2 separate regions of the Homo sapiens genome follow, and region 2 is linked to region 1. The links come from fine-mapping of genetic effects on plasma protein levels. A gene starts in region 1. The other region holds a variant in brackets. All regions are shown on one strand. Distances are from middle to middle.

Region 1 (5,377 bases):
CACCACTATCTCACATGCAAATACAGCTCTAAGAATTATTTTAAGAACAGAATCTAAATTCTCATCTGTTATAAGCATACAAACACAGTCAAACACAAACAACTTTTCTACAAATTTTCCATACACTTCATGTAGGTTTTTATAGACACTGCATCTTTGCTAGGCTGCAAAAAATAGATCAGAGAGCCAGAAAAGCTGCATTAAATTCTAAGATGGAAGAACTCCAGAGACCTTCTAGGAGTGGGAATGAGAATGATTTACTCTCACTCTGACAGATGTGCTATTCACGTGCAGATAGTTACATAATCGACTTGCTGATGGAGCCCTAGATCTCCATCTTCTTTCAGAAGTTCCAGATTCAAGTCCTTCACTTTCTCTCTTACTGAAGATATGATGTCCACTTGCTAAGAGAGTGTCTCTGAAATGATCTTTAAAATTTGTCACCCAGCACTTAGAGTGAACTCAGCCTATGTGATTTGCTTTCAGACCCAAGGGCCTAGAGATTTTCCCCTCCCCAGCCTTCCAAAGCCTCTGGCTTGGACTGAAATCCCCTCCTCTGGATCTCACAACCTCAGCGGAGCACACTTCCCAAGAGACCCCATTGAGCCATGCCAAAAGGAGGCTCAAGAGGAGTGTTTATCAAGCAGCTCCAATCAGCTTCAGCTCATTTGTGGTCTGAGCAGAGCCGGAGGGCAGGTTAGGAGTCAGTGGAGGTGGTGGCAAGCAGGAACATGGTGGCTAAAAGTTGGGAGCAGCTTGCAGGCTGGCAGAGGGAGCCAGGAAAGCCAGGGATAGGTCCCAAAAGACAGGTGGTAGTGAATGCCCAAACTGGCGAACTCATGATTCTGTGGCTGGGCCCTGGTAGCAAGCTGTACTATATAAAGGTGGAAGATGAGAGAAAGGAGAGGGGAGGGCAGGGGAGGAGAACGGAGGGAGGTCGGATGGAAAAGGAGAAGGGGTCCCCAGCTTGAGAAAGGCTCAACTAAAAGTTGAGGTTCCCAGGCAGCTCACAGGCACCTCCCAACTCAGTGCGGAAAAGCTACCTCTAGCTTCTCACCTTATTTGCCCGCTCCCAGAAAGCTGCTTCTGGGACGCTTAATGACTTCCTCTTCCCCTACAGGTTCATTTTAACCTGATTCCTGCTAAAGGGGGTGGGAGAGGAGGTATTAACACACCATGGGAATAACAGTTGCCTGGCAGTAAGGATAAAATTTCCTTTCCACTTTACCCTGAATCAGTTCCTACAAAGCAGCTTAAAACTTAAGAGTCAGCTCAAAACACAAATGTTCCTGTTTATTAATTTACAAATTTGTTCTATTCATTCATTTATTTAGGTGCGTGCAGAGAATTTCCCGCAGCCATCCCTACATCTCCCAAGCACACTGCTAGAAAGATGGGCATCCTCTATCCTTCTACCAGAACTCAGTAGGTTCATTTCTCATACCCTAGATTTAAGCTGCCCACGGTGTTGAACGCAGAGCCAAATATTTGCACGCCCTATAGCCGACGTCACCCACTTTCCCATTAACACTAAATTAAAACGCATCCATGGATTTCCTCTCCATTCCGAGGCAACAGGAGTGCATGGCACATTGCCCTACTCCCCTGAAGCTCTTCGCTAACCTAAGACTCCAGGGTGAGGAAGTTAGCTGGAGCTTTTTAAAGTGCATCTCCAAAGAGAATTTTGCTCACACCATGAGAGCCCCCAAGAAACACCAGGGCCCCCTTAGATGCCGGAGACCACGCCCTCCAGGAATAAGCCGCACCCTCTGCCCAGCAGATCCTTGCGCGAGTAGCCCTCTTTCCCTGGGGCTAATCAAGTGCATGCCACATGTCACCACTCTCAGCTGGCAATTCTTCCTCAGAGGCGCAGACTTTCTCGGAATCCCCAGCAGGGGGGGTTAAGAGATTCAGGGGAGGCCCCGCCCGTGCCTTCCACAAAAGTCGCTTTACCGTGGCTCGTGTCCTGCGGCCCCAAGGGGGTAGCCTGGGACGTGTAGTGGGAGGGCATAGAGGCTCCTTCCAGGACAAGCTGCCAGCCTCCAGTGGGCAACCATGTGAGAGGCAAAATTCTGGGGGTGAGAAAGTAGCAAACTAGTCTGCGGCCAAACTTTCTCTGTGGAGCCTCCTACACCGAAAAGGGTTTGATTGGAACTCTGGAAGCCCGGACGCAGAAGGTGCTAGGGCTCCCGTCGCCGCGAGGGCGCCCCGCGCCTGGAGATGGGATGGTCAGTTCTTCCCGGCGCGTGCCCAGACACCAGCCCCGATCCGCATCATCCCCACCCTCGGGCTGCGAAAGAGGAGTTCTGCGCAAACAAAGGGCGCCCCCGGCACCTCCCTCTATCCCGAGCGAAGGGTCCCAACGGCGACTCCGGGGGTCTTTGGTGCCCAGCTGAGGAGGCAGCCACGCCTCCGATCCTACCTGGGAAGCTGCGGCTGGGCGGGACGCGCAGCAGCAGCAGCAGCAGCAGAGGCGGCAGCAGCAGCAGCAGCGCGGGCCGATGTGCGGGGCTCCCCATGGCGAGCGGGCGCTTAGCTCGCCTCGGCAGCGCAGCGCGCTTCCCGGGGGCGGCAGGAGACCGAAGAGACCAAGGGACTGCGTGCTAGCGGGCGGGCGAAGGCCGGGCTGGAAAACTCCTCCTCTCGCCTCTTTCCCTCCCTCCTTCCTGCCTGGGGCCTGCCCTCCTTTCTCCGCCCCCCCTGGAACACTGCGCGGTTCGGGGCTCTGACCCACCCACCTCCTCCTTTTGTGCCAGCGCTTTTTCTGGCCAGAGAGCGCTGGAGACAAGCCCCAGCAGAGCGAAATATCCTGAAGTAGCTTTCTTTGCCCCAATTTGCGCGCCCCCTCACCCGGAATACACACACGGTATTCAATACAACCGCCTCGAACATCCCAGACGTCTAGAAGGATACCATCTGTGCAGAAAGCTGCGTGAGTCACACGGAAACAGAAGGGGCAACCGAGGGGATTCAGAGTGGCCCACTGCGGCCGGATACTATGGCCATGTTCTCTGTTTTGATCCTCACGACCATGCCCCAAGTTCGCTATTACCATGTCCACTTTCTCCAATAAGACACCGACGCTTAGAAACTTGCCCAGATTCACCCCCGTTACTGGCAGAGCAGGGACTGGAACTTAGGTGTGTAGTTCTGCCGACGTCAAAGTCCATACTACAGATTTTTTGTTAGTTTGTTTCTCTTTTGCAAAGGAATAAATCAAGGACTGGACCGGGTGCGTGCCTGCTCTGCTGCGGTTTAGGATGGGGCTTGAGGTTCTCCTTCCAGGATCAGCTGATGGGAGAGCACAAGGCACAGAAAGTTCTCTGTCTCACCCACAGCCATGGGGATCCAGCTGTAGGTTCCTGCAGCCAGATTTCCTCATTTCCTGGGTTGTTCTCAACCACCCCAAAGATACCACGACCAGACTGGAGCCTCTTCCCTGTGGCTTGGCATCGCTGGATCCTGGCATCAGGACAGGGTTTCTAGGCTGCCCGCAGGACGGATCTGGTTTCTTTGAGGCATTTGAGTAAGCCTCTCATAGTTTTGTTTGTTTGTTTGTTGTTTTGGTTGTTTAGTTCTTGTTAAATCAGTAAGGCAATACGTTGCCCCTTTGCTGTCTCAGAAAGATCTTAGCTAAGGCAAATTTTAGTTGGAGTTGCTGCATTAGGTTGTGCAGTTTGGGCACTGTACAAAGGCATCCAGAGGAAGGGGCAAGTGGGAGCCAAAATCCAAATGCCTTTGGGTTCAGGGAGCTTTGCGTCTTGGCAGGGGCCACATCCACTAGAAGGGCATCTTTCTCTCTGCCACAGTAGTCTGGTCTGATAGCTAGGCTAAGAGCCCTGGGGGCACTCACCTAGAAGTTCTGAATTTGTTTATCCAGAAGGAGTGCCATTTCCCAATTCTCACAAAAGCCCCAGACTTGAACGTCCATCTTACCCTCTCTAGCACTTGGGGGGACTTCGCTCCATCTCCTGTGGGTTTCTCCACTGCTGCTACCTCTTCAGGGAACCAACAACCCTTAAATAACCCCCTAGTCGCAAGGAAATGGGGGAGGTCAGTCTATTCTGTGGCCTCCATCAGACCAGACTTTCCAGGGAGTCATTCTCAACCTTGTTTATGTGGGTCACCTGGGGAGCTTCATGAAAATACCATATCCAGGCTCTACCTCACACTAATAAAATCAGAATCTTTAGGAATGTGACCTGGAGTTTGACCAGATGCATATTTTTGTCTCTCCCCAATCCGCTAAGCTCCACGGTATAAGTTTTAGTATAGGATAAAAATTCTAGACCAGGAGTTTCTCAACTTGGGCACTATTGATATTTGGGGCTAGATGATTCTTTCTTGGGGAGGGGGACTGCCTTGCACGTTGAGAGATGCATCGATGGCCTCTATGCAACAGATACCACTAGCAATCCCCCTTTCCCCAGTTATGGCAGCCAAAAAAATGTCTCCAGACATTGCCAAATGTCCCCCAGGGGAAAAATGCCCCCAATAGAGAACTACTTCTTTAGGTCTGTAAACAAGGGTTAATGTGCACCCCAAATTCCAGGTCCAGGATAGCCTGGCCAGCAGCCTTCCTTTCCTATGTCACCTCTGAAGCAATGTGTCTTCACCACAACCAGTATACATTCTATTACTGGGCTGAGAAGGAACTTCTAGCTCACTTCTATCCACTGATTCTGGCTGGATTACAAGAAACACCACACTTACTGTTGACTTGCTCTCTGGCCTTTGAATGTCCTCACCACAAAGAAAGAAATCAGAAATGGATGAGGTGATGGTCACGCAAAATACTGACTTGACGCTTGGTGCAGTGGCTCATGATTGTAATCCCAGCACTTTGGGAGGCCAAGGTAGGCGGATCACTTGAGGTCAAGAGTTTGAGACCAGCCTGGCCAATATAGTGAAACCCCATCTCTACTAAAAATACAAAAATTAGCCGGGAGTGGTGGCACACACCTGTAGTCCCAGCTACTCGGGAGGCCAAGGCAGGAGAATCACTTGAACCTGGGAGGCAGAGGTTGTGCCACTGCACTCCAGACTGGGCAACAGAGCTAGACTCCATCTCAAAAAAAAAAATACTGACTTGATTTTTTCTTTTTCTTTTTCTTTTCTTTCTTTCTTTTTTTTTTTTTTCTTTGACAGGGTCTTATTCTGAATTTGAATTTGTTTATCCAGAAGGAGTGCTGTTTCCTGGCTGGAGTGCAGTGGCATGATCATAGCTCATTGCAGCCTCAAACACCTGTGCTCAAGCAATTCTCCTGCCTCAGCTTCCTGAGTAGCTAGGACTACAAGCATGTGCCACCATGGCCAGCTAAGTGTTTTTTGTAGATATGGGGGTCCCATAAATATGTACATTTACAATGTGTCCATT
Region 2 (5,377 bases), 43 kb before region 1:
CAAAGTTGCAGGTGTTTTGATTTTGGTCTCATAGTTGCCCAAAGCACAGCTGGGATGAAATGAATAAATCAGAACCTCCCTGCTGTGCTTTTGAAATGTTCTCTTTGAGATCCATAAAATATAAGGGCAACACTAGCTCCTTGGTGGATAAGTTCCTACAGCAGCCACTGCCCCATTGTCCCACAATTGATGGGGAACAGTGAGGAGTTCCCTAAAGCCTGCCGGGCTCTCAATGCCATGAATAGGAGCCACTTCCCTGCAACTGCCTGGCTCATCACTCCAACCCAGCACCTGAGCTGTCAGTGAGTGAGGTAAGACCGCCATCATGTGGCCAGGAAGGAGGACAGACCCTGTTTTACTTTCCCAGGAATTCTCTTCTGAGGATATGCCTCCAACTGCTTCTCAGTTACAAAAACCAACAGTTCTGGCCACGTCTTATGCATAGACCACTGTTTTAGTTTTGCCTTCACATTTCCTTCAGCTAATACTTTCTCTTTTTTTTTTCTTTTTTAGAAACAGGGTCTCACTCTGTCACCCAGGCTGGAGTGTAGTGGCATGATCATTGCTCACTGCAGTCTCGGCCTCCTAGGCTCAAGTGATCCTCCTGTCTCAGCTTCCCAAGTAGCTGGAACTACAGGCACGCACCACCGTCCCTGGTCTGGCTAATACTTTCGTCATATCATGTTTTGCAGACAGCTGCAAGTGAGCCCTAAACTCAAGACTCAAGTAATCTTCCCTGGACTTTCTAGGTAAAGGTGATGTCCTAAAGGCTTAACCTAGAGCTGATTAAATTTAACCATGTGGATATAAACGTGTAGGAGCTCACACAAGGCCTAAAGAACTTCCTTGAATAAATTTTCCTTCCTCTAAGGGTTTTAATATAATCTGTATGTACTACATATATTTGTGATATACAGTACTCCCCCTTTGCCCACGGGGGATATTGGATGCCTGAAGCCTTGGATAGTACCTAACGCTATATATACTGTTTGTTTCTTACACAAACATACCTATGATGAAGTTTAATTTATAAATTAGGCATGATAAAAGATTAACAACAACTAATAATAATATAGAACAATTATAACAATATACTGTAATGAAAGTTAGGTGAATGTACTGTCTCTCTCTCAAAATATCTAATATTTTGGGGCTGCGGTTGACTGAAGGTAAATGGAACCTTGGAAAGTGAAACCGCAGATAAGGGGGAACTAATGTATGTATATATATGACCTGCATACTCATACATCACAAACTCACTCAATTAATATGAATATATGATGGTATTCCAAGCAAAAGAATCAAAAGCCATGCTTGCCACATACCAGGAGCACCGTAAATGTTGGTTACATTTAATTTTCTTTCTTATTTTACTTTAATTCAAAAACACTTACTCTGTGCTGGACATTGTGCAGGGGCCTCAGGATCTAAAACTAAACCCTCACTTAATAATGGCTTGTCTCTAGCTTTTAAAATTAAAAAAACTTGGCCAGGTGCAGTGGCTCACGCCTGTAATCCCAGCACTTTGGGAGGCCAAGGTGGGTGGATCACCTGAGGTTAGGAGTTCGAGACCAGCCTGGCCAACATAGTGAAACCCCTGTCTGTACTAAAAATGCAACATTAGCTGGGTGTGGTGGCGTGTGCCTGTAGTCCCAGCTACCTGGGAGGCTAAGATAGGAGAATCGCTTGAACCTGGGAGGCGGATGTTACAGTGAGCCAAGATCACGCCACTGCACTACAGCCTGGGTGACAGGGTGAGACTCCATCTCAAAAAATAATAATAAAAATAAATAAAACTTAAATTTTATTGTATGAAGCGCACAACATGATGCTTTGATATACTTATACATACTGAAATGATTGCTACCAGTAAGCAATTTAACTGACAATAGAAACAATGCCCTAAGAAAATTTATTCTTAAACATTCAGGGTAAGTTCTAGGGCAAGCACACATTTTGGCCATCTGGTCTACCTGTCACATTTGCAATGCTGTGAGGTGAAGATGGATGTGAAGAACAAGGACCTGAGGGCACTAGGCAACCCCTGCTGTAGATGTGAA[G/A]GGTCATCTGTGCATGCATGTGTTTTAGGAAGATTTTTCAACAAGGGACTCAAAGAAAAAAAAATCTAAACCCATAAATAGTTAAGAAGTTTTGCGAATTAGAACCTTTCCTTACCCCAAGCATCTGATTAACGTATTTGTGCTTTGCTTGATTGGTTAATTCCTGAGGCTATGGAGATAGAAACTATAGGTAGGAATGAGTATTTGCATTCAGATCTCACAAAAAAATGTGGTATGTGATGGGAAGCACACCTGCACATAAGCACCAGGCACCAGTCATTATATTGGAAATATTGTTCACTTGTGTAGAAAACAACTGAAGGACATCTCCAGTCAAAAGTTGTCCAGTCCTACCCTGATTCTCCTGTATCTGAGACACATCACAACAAACAAGGGCCATGTCCTCATCCCAGGAATTAGGACAAATTTCCAGGGCAAAATGCCGCAGTGAAACTTTGTTAACCATTTTTTTTTTTTTTTCAAATTCTTCCTCCACTGTAAGAGGAACTAGATTCAGAGAGAAAGCATCTCTAAATTTACCTTCATTTCTCCCAGGTTTCCCTAAGCTTCAGAGAAATGTTTCACCAGTAGAAATATTTGTGGACATACTTACCTGAGTCTGGACAGAAGGTTCTTGTTTAGGCTTTTTATACGTGCTGGGGAGTGGATTGCTGGGAATATGTAGAGATGGAGTTCTTTATCATTAAGTTTCATTTGAGCAACATACTTTAACATACCGTTTCAGAAGCCATGCTGGGCTCAGAAAGAGCACGATGAAATGAGCTTATGAAAATCAAGTTTTCTCCTTCCCCATTCATCTTAGTACATTATCAGCACTTGGTCCAGATTTGACCTTAGGTGGTTTACTCTGGATGATTCTGGCTGTAATGTATGAATTAGGCTTGATTTTCACTTTCATCAGCTACAGCTGCCTTTGCAGAAGTGAGGACAGTAAAGAAACTTATGAGAATAAAATGACCATTGGGATGCTGAAAGACAGCATTTCAGAGATTTCCAATGCATTTTGCTTTATTTCCTTTTTTAAAAAAGGGAGTATATATATATATTTTTTTTTCCTTGATAGATAATTAGAACTTAAATGTGTTGTCTGGTCACTTTATTACAATCTGTTTCACAAGGCAAAAAGGAAAGTTCTCCTGGCACCAGCAGGTCCTCATTAGCACATAAGCAAAGCATTCACCTTTATATCTAGGGTGTGAATACCCGACTTCATCGTCTTCTAGTGGTGAGTCTCCCGATCCTACAATAAAAAAGAACAGAAACTGCAGCAAGAAAAGCCACATAGTATGGACGCATATTTCAAAGCATTCCTTTGCCACAGACCATGCAGGAGGTGCTATTAGAATGCAGAGCCAAGAGCAAAAGCTTCTGTGGCCATTCATGAAGGAACAAACAGGAGATCTCTCAGAGTGAAACCGGCTGAGCTGAGATTGCCAAAAACCAAGCAAAATGAGCCTCAAACTGTTTTGGAATCACCATATGCCAAGTGAAATTCTGGAATAGGGAAACAGAGAGAGTCAACTTCACTCTGAGAAGATGCCAATGTATATGAATCTCATGCCAGGGGAGATGCAATAAAATGTGTGCATCAGACACAGTCCACAGTTTCCCCAGCAGTCAAAGAAAACCCAGTAGAACTGGGTGTTTATGGTACCTGAAAACAGGTCCATCTTGTGAAATAAATTTAAATGCAAGATAAGGAGGTAAATCAAATGTCTTATCTTGACAAAAGAAACACAAAGTTGCTTCTATATACAGCATTTGTAGGAAATGAAGGCTGAAATAGACTATCTGTGTGCTTATTTAGAACCTCTCATGAACGTATGGCTCAAGTAAAATTTCTTTTTTTTTTTTTTTTTTTGAGACGGAGTCTCACTCTGTTGCTAGGCTGGAGTGCAATGGTGTGATTTTGGCTCACCGCAACCTCCGCCTCTTGGGTTCAAGGGATTCTCCTGCCTCGGCCTCCTGAATAGCTGGAATTACAGGCATGTGCCACCATGCCTGGCTAATTTTGTATTTTTAGTAGAGACGGGATTTCTCCATGTTGGTCAGGCTGGTCGCGAACTCCCGACCTCAGATGATCTGCCCGCCTCGGCCTCACAAAGTGCTGGGATTACAGGCGTGAGCCACCGTGCCCAGCCAGTAAAATTTCTTAATGAGCGTTGCTACCAATAAAAACCACGGCCTCAGAGAGAACGTCTGTGTATTATTTTAATTTAACTCATTTGCAAGCTGGAGCTGAATGGTTTTTAAAATATTAAATATTGAATTCCAGTGAGCAGTAAATCCTTAATCCTTGAAGTGGTAGCAGATGCCAAACTTCAAAACTGTAATCTTAAATTCAGAGAACTTCCCTCCAGACTTCACAGTCTAATTAATGACTCGAGTTAGCTCTGTCTTGGTCACGCATTTAGTTGTAGTTACTTGCCACCATAACAGACAAGAACATCCTCCACTGTGAGGTTATTCAAATCCCCATGCAGCTAATGAGTAATGGTCCCTGTTCCACTTGTGTTCTGGATGAGAGATGTAGAGTGTGGAAACTGAAAGTGGAGAGGAGATGAGGGCTGGACTGTGTTCATTAGGAAAAGACCCGCAACTACAGAAGCCCAATTCTGTATTTTCCTTTGCTGCAGATTTCCTCACCTTGTCTCTGCACACCCAGATGTGTACAAAATTACAAACTATTCATCATTGCATATAAAAAAATGAGCACTGGAACCAGACACAGTGGCTCATGCCTGTAATCTCAGAAACTAGGGAGGCTGAGTGGGAGAATTACTTGAGCCCAGGAGTTCAAAAAACAGCCTGGATAACATAGTGAGAACCCATCTCAAAAACAAAACAAAACAAAAAACAATGAAAACCAGGAAACCTACCTAACAACATGAATCAAAGGCCTATGCTCAAACCCTTTGATCAAGTCATTCCACTTCTAGGAATCTACCCAAGGAAACAGTTGAACTGCATGTCTGCATGTGAACCTTCAATCATCCAAATTAAAAAAAAATCCAGATACATGAGCAGCAAGCTTTCTCCCCCCGCCCAGCCCTCCAACACACATATACACACATACATATATTTTGCCCTCGGTTGTCATCCTGGTTAACTTGTCTACAGTATTTACAGCATTTAGTATGAATGACTACCCATTCATTTCATGAAGCTCTCTTCTGCAGTGGCTTCCAAATGACAACAGTTTCCCGATTTTCTTCCTCCTTTCTAAACAGACTCTCTGGACAGCACATCTAGATCAGCCTGCCATTTGGACATAAGTATTTCCCAGGAGTCCAGTA

Alleles and levels. Alleles are on the strand shown, and positions count from the first base shown. The strength of an association depends on the size of the effect and on how common the allele is.
For the plasma level of the protein whose gene starts at base 2,598 in region 1, G is the low allele of the variant in region 2 and A is the other (moderate association).

Evidence for each region. A credible set is the group of variants that fine-mapping cannot tell apart. PIP is the posterior inclusion probability: the model's chance that the variant is causal. The UK Biobank Pharma Proteomics Project read protein levels with antibody pairs (Olink). The fine-mapping took linkage between variants from a reference panel, not from the people measured, so its PIPs are less certain.
Region 2: its variant is the best candidate, but not a certain one, in a credible set for the plasma level of the SRPX protein (UK Biobank, PIP 0.53).

Annotation. Positions count from the first base shown.
Region 1 is chrX:38,218,274-38,223,650 of GRCh38, forward strand. It overlaps SRPX (sushi repeat containing protein X-linked), which reads right to left and starts at 2,598. Exons shown (of 10, transcript NM_006307.5): 1 at 2,423-2,598. The coding sequence starts at 2,519. LOC124905176 (a long non-coding RNA gene) reads left to right here and starts at 2,635. Exons shown (of 2, transcript XR_007068212.1): 1 at 2,635-3,526; 2 at 5,149-5,377.
Region 2 is chrX:38,175,024-38,180,400 of GRCh38, forward strand. It overlaps SRPX (sushi repeat containing protein X-linked), which reads right to left. Exons shown (of 10, transcript NM_006307.5): 2 at 3,262-3,321. Among named protein-coding and RNA genes, the nearest start is that of SRPX, 43 kb to the right of the region's middle. The variant G/A (reference allele first, on the strand shown) is at 2,061.